Homo sapiens: one gene and its partners. The protein of the gene in region 1 interacts with the protein of each later gene in a biochemical or structural test. Each region holds a gene or a part of one and is shown in the gene's direction. Other genes may lie near its edges. The genes, in order: RUNX2, HIVEP3 and SMURF2.

Region 1 (3,754 bases):
TCTCCTTCACATGAATAACTGCATGTTAAATGAACGCTTTTACCTTTCAATGTAAAATCTGTTTACACATACAATAAGGCATGATAAATCCATAGTTAAAATAAAACACCAAAATGTATTTCTGGTTTTTTATCACTAAAAGTTTATTCTGAAAAGGTTCTGGACATTTGAAAAATAAAGGACTAGAATCATTCCCATACCCTACCAGTGTATTTTGGGAAAATCAAATTTTCTGTAAAGAAACTTATGAACATATTTGTACAGTTATTGTGATCTAATATGAACCAAAAGCAGATAATGAATAGCACTAGGAAGAACACAGGGATATTTTAGTTCTAACACCCTCCTGTCTCCCTAGCCCTTACCTCCCTGCACATTCCAAATAATCTTTTGTAATTCACTGTCTCCGCCCACCCCATTTACTTTATGCCACTCCTAGTTACTGTCACACTAGGAAGAAGTCTAACATGCAGATTTAGAGTGGCATGGATAAATGGCAAAAAAATGCCTAGAAAATTGGTCTGTTCGCCTTTATAATTTTGGTTGAAAAATACTCCATCGCTCCCAACTGATGAAAACAGGAAGCTCTATTCATAAATATAAAATTCACTGCCTATGATATATAATCATCCTAATAAGAAAATGAGTTCTATACATACTTGTCCAAAGGGGCAAAAAAGGAGATAGTTTCCCAAAGATGTTTCCAATTTTCTTCTGAATCAGAATTAGCAAATCGAGACGACTAACATACTCTGTCTGTGGGCATTATTCCTTACTACACACAGCATTTTGTAATTTATTTCAAAGCTTCCATTAGAAACAAAAAAATACATAGCTTCTGTTAACCCACTCTATTCTAAGCTCATAGAATCAAATACTGAACAATCTACATTATAACATAAGCATTTTACTTTATAGAAGATCTGCTATCAGAAACTCTATTAATGTCTAAACTACTTAAAGAACTATATAAACTGAATACACTTCAATGAAAGACAAAAAATATTACAATCATAAAGAAAACTAAGATTCATCCAATAAACTATATTACAATCCCTGTCATTCATTTTTTTAAGATCTTCAAACTAGGCATGAGATAATGGTATACATGAAACATTACATTTAATCTTTATTGTAAAGGCCGCCATCTAATAGATTGATAATAAACTAGACAGACGTGATTTAAAATTTGTAAAAGAATGCCCAGACTAACACTTTCATGACAGCCAATTATAGTCAAGCCTAGCAAGCAGTTTGCAACCAGACCTTAAGGTAAACTTTTTTTTTTTTTACAATGAGTTACAGATTCACAAGTTTAAGAAGACAAGAAAAAGGAAAACAGAAGGAATCCAGCCACCCAGCAAATATGAAGCAGACCCCAGAATGTGATACAGTCCAAAGATGTGAATTATTGTATATCATCACTGTTGTTCAGAATTTCACACAGACTCTTGAGCCAATTTTGTTCATTTTTCCACAGACACAATAATGAACTAAAAAGAGGAGGCAAAAAGGCAGAGGTTGAGCGGGGAGTAGAAAGGAAAGCCCTTAACTGCAGAGCTCTGCTCTACAAATGCTTAACCTTACAGGAGTTTGGGCTCCTTCAGCATTTGTATTCTATCCAAATCCTCATGAGTCACAAAAATTAAAAAGCTATATCCTTCTGGATGCCAGGAAAGGCCTTACCACAAGCCTTTTGTGAGAGAAAGAGAGAGAGAGAAAGAGCAAGGGGGAAAAGCCACAGTGGTAGGCAGTCCCACTTTACTTAAGAGTACTGTGAGGTCACAAACCACATGATTCTGCCTCTCCAGTAATAGTGCTTGCAAAAAAAAGGAGTTTTAAAGCTTTTGCTTTTTTGGATTGTGTGAATGCTTCATTCGCCTCACAAACAACCACAGAACCACAAGTGCGGTGCAAACTTTCTCCAGGAGGACAGCAAGAAGTCTCTGGTTTTTAAATGGTTAATCTCCGCAGGTCACTACCAGCCACCGAGACCAACAGAGTCAGTGAGTGCTCTCTAACCACAGTCTATGCAGTAATAGTAGGTCCTTCAAATATTTGCTCATTCTCTTTTTGTTTTGTTTCTTTGCTTTTCACATGTTACCAGCTACATAATTTCTTGACAGAAAAAAATAAATATAAAGTCTATGTACTCCAGGCATACTGTAAAACTAAAACAAGGTTTGGGTATGGTTTGTATTTTCAGTTTAAGGCTGCAAGCAGTATTTACAACAGAGGGTACAAGTTCTATCTGAAAAAAAAAGGAGGGACTATGGCATCAAACAGCCTCTTCAGCACAGTGACACCATGTCAGCAAAACTTCTTTTGGGGTAAGTGTTACCATTTTTAAAATCCTGTAAGATATGAACCTGTTAAACATAAAGGTATGATTCTTTGATAAACTGCTAGCTTTTCCAAATAGCATATTAAAGATCCTAATTATGCTATCTTGTTGCATTAAGAATTGAAAAATGAAATTTCTGTATATATTTGCATTTGGTATCTGTAATGTATCTAATTTTCAAAGTAATGACTTGAAATATACAAAATTAAATTATCTCACATTGATCAAAATGTTTTCTAGAGTTATAGAGGTGAGGATATGAAAACAGTAAAAGAAACAGTTTAATACTCTCATTAACCCTCACCAGAAGAAAAGTCAGATCCTAAATTAATCAAAGCATTATAAATTATTGACTCCGGCAGCTCCCAATATTTGAGCAAACTTCAAAAAGGAAGCAATTTTACAAAATAACAGACCACAGAATTATCTCAACATTATGGTCTACCATGTATAACACAGAAATAAACCTGTAGTACAGTTAACATTTTAACCAGCTCAACTAAAAGAAATCTACTTATAAATTCAAACTGTATCCTATCTAAATAAGTTTGTTTCTAAACAACTTTATATAAGTATACATTCAGCTGAAATAAAATTATGATAAGCACATCACAGCCATTTTTAAAAGATCTTTATAGTTGCCCAGGATATTAAAAAGTTCATGGAAGTATTTTAAAACTTACATGCAACTGCATTTTTCTATGTAATTTTAATTTTACATCTACACACTGTTATCCATAGACCTTGTTATAAACACACTGAAACACTGAAACGTCTAAGATTCTTTTAATCACATTCTTGGACCTACCAAAATGAATAACTGCTGTTTAGTCTCATGAAAAATAAAGCTCCATAAGGATACCCTGTATGATTTTTAAAAGCCACAACTATTAAACCATGCTGGACTTTAAAAGAAGTAGGCATAATCTTGTCCCTTAATATTTAATTTCAAGTTACTGTTGATACAGATATGTAAATGACTTTAACATTCATCAGCTGATGTGTTATTATAGCAAAATATCTAAACACACTTACAAGATTCTCTTTATGATCTCCAACATGTTCCAACTACAAGGCAAGTTTTCAAAAATTTTTCTTATATCCATTAAAATAAACCTTCTTGCTGTGTACATCTATATTAACTCTGCTTTTAACTTACAACTAATGACTGGAGTTTCCTTTACTCCTCCTACTTCACACATTTTAACTGGATACTACTAGAGGATCAGTCTCAGTTTAGGTCAAACAGAAATAATTAAACCTGAAGGGAGAAAAAATGGTTTCTCTTACAGGGTGAGGAAATGTACTTTGTATTTTACAAAAAAAAATGTAAAATTGCTTTAGTGACTCCCTCAATAGCTGTAAGTGGGCCCCCTCAGTTATAATATATACAATATAATAATCACAGAT
Region 2 (3,754 bases), on another chromosome or scaffold:
TGGATAGATGGACCAAATGACCTTCCAGACTCATGTAACTCTGGGAGGCTTTTTCTTTAAAGCAGCATAATTAAAGGGTTGAGAAAAACTTTTACTGAAAAGGACAGAGAGATAGAGTTTAGTTTACTCAGGAGAACAGAATAAGGTGAGACTTAAATGGTGAGTCACACTAAGCCTGCTGAAGATACAGCAGGAGGGACTAAGATTAAATTACAGCTGAAGTGATTCATGTTGGTCACTACAAAGATCATTTAACCCTTAAAAAGTTGTGTGGCATCATGATACATTGCAAAGCCAAGTTACAAAGCCTCATTTTCTGGAGCTGTTCTCTTTAAAGGTAAGAGGATGGACTCGAATCACCTTCTGAATTATCGGACAGCCCTGTGACATGATTATACCTTGGTGCCTGAGATGTTAGATGGGAAATAAACAGCAGCATCTAGTAAACTCTCCTGGGGTAAAAAACAAAACAAAAAAAAAAAAACCATCTTGTTTTCACCCAGTCTTACTGATTTTTTTTTAGTGTGAAGACAGAATGTTTTTGTCAAAAACAAGTTCTCCAAATTTATAAACCTGATTGGAGACATCTTTAGTTTCTTCTCAAACATGCTGGGAAAATAGGAATGTCACTGAGACTCCTTCACCATCCCCTCGCAGCCCCTATTCCCCGGGGGGCTGGGTAGATGGAGAAGCAGGGGGCAGGGGCTGGACCAGGGAGAGAGTGACAGGCTCTCTGTGGTAGGTCTGTGCCTTGTCACAGAGCCTCCTGGGCTCAGGTCTGTGGTGGCCGCGGGAGAGCCAGCTCCACGCTGTGTGGCTGGTGACATTTCCGGCTGCCAGGGCCCAGCCAATCAGTGATGGACCCAGCTTGCTTGGGCGATGACACATGAAATATGATAATTTTCTGCCAAAGGGCCCTGGAAGAGGGGAAGGAAGAGAGTGTGTGTGTGTCGCTGGGAGGGGTCCACACAGGAGCGCCTGTGATGAGGTGGGAGGGTGACAGTGCACTTGTTTTCACGGTTTGCCTGGCAGGACTAGGCAAGGGAGGGAATGGGCTGTGATGCTGGAGCGGCTGTAGGAGCGCCCCTGTAGCTCCCGAGGTGAGCCACTGCCGCTGCTCTTAGGCGGGAACCAGCGGAGGAGCAGACAGCGCCATGCTGGAGCTCTGGGGCTGGGGTGAAAAAGAAACTGTCAAAGACATTTGCCTTCTTAACACACGTGAGCAAGGTTAGGACTCTTGTTTCTTCTCAGCGCTACCTCTTTAAAAGCCAGAACAAAACTGCAGTAAACACCATCTGGGTGGCTGAAGTACTCGAAGAATAATTTTTTTCAAAAAAATTTAGGCTGGAGGTTGTCTCTCCCCCTACCCTGTTTTTCTACCTCCATACCTCCATGCTGACCCTTAAAAGAAAAGTGAAAAACAAAACAACAGAACTCAATAACAAAATCTTGAAGAAGGGCCTAAGTCTGAATCGTAAAGACTCTAACTAAGGTTCAGGTGGTAGTTCTGATTCCTGATTCTGGTTGAAAGAAAGTATGTCTTGGAATGCGATGTGGCTCTGGATTATGTTCGACTTTAGAAATAGTGCCAGAACTATTCTTTGATTTGTGGACATGGACCCTGAGACTGCAGAGCAAGGCAGGGCAGGGCAAGGAGTGCCCGTGTTGAGCTCTCAGGTGCAGAGACCCCACTCCCTTCAGGCACTGTTGAGGCTCCCCGGCCCCTGATCTGCAGCCAGAGGCTGGTGAGGTGTGACACGCTTGCTGACAAGAGTGCCCTGTCTCGTCTGACCCGTGAACATGGGTGTTCAGAAGTGAAGGATCATAGTGTTTACATAACGTGCCAATTAGTACTGAGAAGCTCATCAGTGCAATAAATATTTATGACTTGCATTTGCATTTTTTCTCTCCACGTATATATATATAATATGTGTGCATATATATGTGCATATATATGCACATATATTATACATATATGTTGTTTTTTAAAAAGCACCAATAAATGAAATCCTTATCACTGTGTGCAAGCCTACTGTGCCTTTAGGCATGGGACTGGCTTCCTGCGCTGGGAGTGACAGCTATTCCGAAGTGATAATTGGTGTACTGTGTCTTTAAAAGGTTAAACCCCCTTTCAAAAAAGGTCTGGACTCCTAGTGGAAAAGACAAGCGAGGCATGGGTTGGCTCTGGATTCAGAAAACAGCTGCTGATTAGATTCTGTGTCTGCAGGCTGAATTTATTCCGTGTTTTTCAGCAGCACGAATTCAAGAGGGATGCTTCTGTTTGGGTTTCTGATCGTGATTTATATTTATTCAGAGGAATAACAGAGGGTGGATCTGTTCCCGGCGCGAGCATGCTCACAACCAGCCGACTCTCCCATTATCCAGCTGCCTAGTTTGGTGCTTCAATGTACATGGCTATTCCGTGTGCATATGTGTGTATACAAACACGCATGCATGCCTGGATGGACATACGTATGCACAGGTTATTTTTTAAGGACAATTCTTTCAATAAGGTCTTTACCCCTTACTTGAAACAGGTGTTCATGAAAAAAATGCACAAAATCCTGCCTGGCCGGAATAATTCATGAAGAAGGGGCTGGATCCGTGGGTCAGAGAACACAGGACCAGTTTGCCATCCCAAGGCCGAAGGTAGGGGACTCTGGGTTTTTATTCGGCGGATGGATTCCTTGCGCTGTATTTTACCTTGTGATTGTGTTTTTGCCTGAGGCCGCACCGCGAAGCAGAATAGCGAGCTGCGATTCCATTTTGTGTATGCCTTTCTTAGGCAAGGTGTCCGGCTGCCGAGACGCAGGGGCCGGCCGGGTGGGCTGCGCGTGGCGGCCAGTGCCCCCGGTGGGCTGAGCGCGCTGCTCGGCCTGGTGCTGGGGAGCGGCGCGAGCCTCAAGTGACCCCCGCGCGTCAATCACAGGCGGCGGCGGCGGCGGCGGCGGCGGGGCTGTAACCCTATGCGCGCCGTGCGCTCCAGCGCTGCTTGCAGCAGGCTCTGCTGGGCTCTGCACCCGCGCACTGGCGGCCGGCTCCATAGGAGCCTCGGCTGGGGGGCTTAGGCATCGCGTTCCGTGGCACCGGCGTTTTCTTGTGCTGCCTTGGCTGCTGCTCCGGATTGTTTAGGCGGACTGCAGTAGCCTGCTTGGTTGAGAGTGAGATTCGTATGATGCTGGCTGCTGAGACAGAGGGGATAGCTTTCTTTTTCCCCCTTAATCCTAGCCCCCTGAAAATATTCCTAAAGCAAAATCATTTCCCAACCCCCAACCTGACCCAACCAAACCCAAACCAAACTCCTATTCTATAGGGGATTCTTGCCTCCCTGCTAGCAGAGAGAGTGTCCCCTCCAAGTTATGCCCCACATTTTACTATCTTTTAAATGGAAACACTGATGGTGCCGAATGGTCCCTAATGATATTGTCCAGGCTGCTGAGGACTCCTGAGTGTGGCAGTGGTGCAGAGGAACTTGGAGGCTCGGCATTGGTTTCCTTTAACGTAGCTGGTTTGGTTTCTGTTGCAGGTCAGGAATATTTCTGTGGCTAGGCCCTTCCTTGAACTTCGGGGGCAGTGGTTGCAGGAAGAGGGTCTGCAGATCTGGTCGCTGGGTGAGCAGCACCCTGGCCCTCTTTCTGGTATACGCTGACGTTTCTGGTAGCCCTTGGCATTGTAACCACAGCAGCCAGGTGCCCACTGGCTACCTGGAGTGCTTCGGTTTTGTTAACTCTGGTGTGCATTTTGGGTGTTACGG
Region 3 (3,754 bases), on another chromosome or scaffold:
ACCTTCTTCTCCCTCCTTTCTTTTGTTCCCTTCCCAAGAGCCTTTTCTGCGGGCTTCTCTGATTGTAGTGAGTGCCGCATGCTAGAGACCGTACGTGGTGATGCTCTGCCTTTGTTTTCTGGTCACCTTACTTTTAATTCTGTTGCACATTCCTGTAGGGAAGTCGTTCACTTCCATGTTCACATCTTGACCTGGTGAAACGTTTACCTGCCTGGGATGCCTCTCCCCTCTACTTTTCGTTCTTTCTCTTATTAGACAGAAGCAGCATGGGTCATGGAAACCATCTGTTCGGTCAGAGCATTTTAATTACTGCATGGCATCAGACCATTTGTTTACAACCATATTCCTTTTTTAAGAATGGTTTTCTGTGGAATAAGCTGGTTAATTTTGGGAGGAGCTGGTAATATTGCTAATGATTGTGGTGCTTCACTGGGTGGCAGTTGCTTCCTTTACCTCTTAAGCACTTCATTTTCAAAGCTGCTGGTGATGAATAAGGACACACAAAGCGACACTGGTACATAATTCGACAGTGCTGCCCACAGCGCATGCGCTGAAATCCCTGGGGGGAGAGCGTGCTTTCAGCTGTGCTGCCCTTCTCTGTAAGGAGAGCTCCTCATCCTCACACTTCCCAGATGCATAAAGTGAAGTTGTATTTCTGCTACATGTATTTATATGGGGTGCCTGTGCGAACTGAAATGGATTCTATAGACGGCTCTTTTGCTGTCAGCCCAGTTTGAGTCATGAAATCTAAATTTGCATCAGGTCGTCATCTTTTTGAATGTGTGCCTATGTATTTTACCTTGGATTTGCCTGATTACTTTTCTTCTCATGCTTTTGGGATATTGACTTTCTATAAAAGATAGAAATTGAGAAAGGGATTTCAATCTTGAGTTTTTTCTCAAATGGAAATGTGAACCTATTACGGAATCTAAGCCTTATCCAAGGTTAATTCTGGCTCTTAAAACCCAGATGCTTTTCCTGCTGCCCTTTGGTAGTATGTGTGGATTCATTAGCATTCCCCTATCCCCAGATCCTGTGGTTAACTTACCAGTTTTATTCTTAAGATTTTGGAGACTAATGCACGCACCTGCAGTGATTTCATCCACATTTCCTTCATTTGCAGGTGCTGCAGGCCCGAGACTCTTTACCATACACCAGATTGATGCCTGCACTAACAACCTGCCGAAAGCCCACACTTGGTAAGGTATTTTTGTAGCTGTATTCCCCATTCCATGTACATAAGTGTTAGTTCCAAACAGATTTGACTTTTTATTTATTGTACTTACTAGTGTTAAATGGGCCTTTAAAGGGAATGATAAGCAACTTAAGTGATTTAAAAGTTAAGATTATTCGGAAATTGGTAGGAAAACCCAAAAGTGGTCATCTCTGTTTTAGAGAAATACCTTTTAGTTTTCTGTGTGACACAGAGTGATGTGGCTATACTGGTATACACTTGCTAGGCCAGTTTACTTATTTTGAATGAACTGTATAAAATTTGATTTGCTTATTCACAGCTTCAATCGAATAGACATTCCACCCTATGAAAGCTATGAAAAGCTATATGAAAAGCTGCTAACAGCCATTGAAGAAACATGTGGATTTGCTGTGGAATGACAAGCTTCAAGGATTTACCCAGGACTCTATTTATACAACCCTGACTGACAGCCTCCTTTCAGCAGAGTTTCAAAGAATATGCTGAAATACAGGAAAACACTCCCCCCCCCCCCCTTTTTTTTTTTTTTTTTACATTTTAGGACACTGTGAGGGGAAAGGACAATTTTGAAATTCCTTTTCAAGGAAAAAAAAGGTCTTTATGCTTTGCCATGAGGCCACATTCAGCTGCTATTTAAACTTAATATCTTGAACCTAAAGAATGCTGACTTTTCCTACATTTCCAGAGTTAGGCAGTATTCTACACTTAAAGACTACTACTATTTTTATAAAAGGTAATCTATTCAAATTTCTTCACAGATTTCAAGTCTCTCAAACATCAAGACAACTTCAGCAGTCGGTACAAGTCACATTTCATTTTGATTGAATACATGATCTTGAACAGCTCCTGTACTTGCTCTTTGTAAAAAAAAATAAAATTATTTTGAATTATTCTACCTTTGTAAACAATTGGCTAAAAGAATCATCTTTAAGAAATTAAGCCATTTACATGTTTGTGTTTTTCTATAGCAGAGCATTATATTTTGCATTATATGTTTCAACCTAGTCTAAGTGGGTCTTTTTTACATTTTTCAAGAACGGATTTCCTGGAATACAGCGATATAATTTTGGTTGTCAAATTCCTAATGCAACCATTTAGTCTAAACTTAGTCATTTATTTGTGACAATAAGATGTGTTCAGGGGCTCCCTGTTTTTAAGAGACTCTTTTAAAAAAAAAAAAACCTAATGTTTTTATCTTGAGTCAATATGATTAGGTATTTTGGATTTACTTTTAATCTTAAAATACTGCATTTTTATAGCTTCTCAGAGCATGTGGATGGGATGGGATTTTCGTTATTTTGCTGGGTCAGCTTATCTTTAATATATGGACTATTCCTATAAACCAAAGTCTCTGACAAGTGCACCTAATTTATATTGTATTTTAACTACAGTGTAAGTTTCCATTAACAAAACCATCCTAAAGCGTTAACTGCTCATAATTTTAATCAGCTACAGTTATGAAAAAGGAAGAATTTTGCTCTAAAGATTATTAATAAGCTTAGAAAATCCTGCTTTTACCTAACAGAATGAAGTGGGGTTGAGGGGCGGTAGTATGAACAGTGATTCTAACTCTATGGCGTAAATTACTTTGAAGAGTTCATTTTGGAAGTAAGGGAATCCCGCTTCCCTTGGTGTTGAAGATCTGCATCTGATTTTGAAACGTCCAGATTTAGCTTTCAAGGTGCGTGCATGTTGAATGATCCAGAAGCAACGAAAACTCTGGGGTGAGGGATTGAAAAAATCTGAAATCACAGTTGGATTTTTAAATTCAACCATCAAAAATATGTACTATCAGTTTTTTTTTACATTGATGTGAAATAAGCAAATTTTCATGATAATTAAGCTGCAAAATTTAAAGTTATCAAGTAAATAGGTCCTCTGTGTTCTGTTTCATGTGATGGAGTGGGTTTCAGTCTGTGTTCTTGGAGCCAAAGGGTTCCTCAGGGGTGCCTCAGGAGTAATGGTTTAAGAGAAGAGGGGCAATGAGAGGGAGCGAGGGGGAAGGCCTAGTTGGTATTTGAGCAGGGGCCTTAGGCTCCATATCCCCACCCCCTTTACCCAGAACAGCCCATTTTTCTTATGTATATTGGAATTTCAAGTAAGCTTTCATGGGGTGCAGTGGGGCGGGGAGGAATGGATGGGATAAAAAAAGTGGAGATTTTGCTGCTTTAAAAAAGTTGAGAACTACTTGTGTAGTTTTTAAGTATTTTAATGTATTTCATTTGGCCAAATTCAACTGCCACAAGCAAGCTAGTCATAGTTGTAACTGTGCAGTGGTAATATGCTTATGCCTACCTTTTTCCTCTCAAACAATTTGTTTTTTTTACATTGCATTCTGAGTACTGAAGAGCATCTTGAAATGTATGGAAGTGGTTTCTATGCTATTTGATAATCAGTAATGTTCAGCTGTCATGATAGTACTTTACTGGTTGCAGACCCATCTCTCTTTTATATTAAAGCACTAGTGCAGTTTATAATTGTGCCTACTTTTAAAATCTTTCAGTAAAAAAGTACATAATGAATACAGAAATCATAACTGAC

Evidence for each region.
Region 2: the proteins of RUNX2 (region 1) and HIVEP3 form a complex in vitro, tested with the Homo sapiens proteins (one study listed by BioGRID).
Region 3: of the proteins of RUNX2 (region 1) and SMURF2, one has a biochemical effect on the other in vitro, tested with the Homo sapiens proteins (one study listed by BioGRID).

What each region holds. Positions count from the first base shown.
Region 1 is NC_000006.12:45,326,455-45,330,208, forward strand, and holds the start of RUNX2 (runt-related transcription factor 2), read left to right. Parts: upstream 1-1,875; 5' UTR 1,876-2,006; exon of another isoform or gene 2,007-2,041; intron 2,042-2,206; 5' UTR 2,207-2,272; coding exon 2,273-2,330; intron 2,331-3,754. UniProt on the Homo sapiens protein: Transcription factor involved in osteoblastic differentiation and skeletal morphogenesis. Essential for the maturation of osteoblasts and both intramembranous and endochondral ossification.
Region 2 is NC_000001.11:41,917,308-41,921,061, reverse strand, and holds the start of HIVEP3 (transcription factor HIVEP3), read left to right. Parts: upstream 1-2,139; 5' UTR 2,140-2,649; intron 2,650-3,754.
Region 3 is NC_000017.11:64,543,708-64,547,461, reverse strand, and holds part of SMURF2 (E3 ubiquitin-protein ligase SMURF2), read left to right. Parts: intron 1-1,123; coding exon 1,124-1,199; intron 1,200-1,514; coding exon 1,515-1,614; 3' UTR 1,615-3,754. UniProt on the Homo sapiens protein: E3 ubiquitin-protein ligase which accepts ubiquitin from an E2 ubiquitin-conjugating enzyme in the form of a thioester and then directly transfers the ubiquitin to targeted substrates.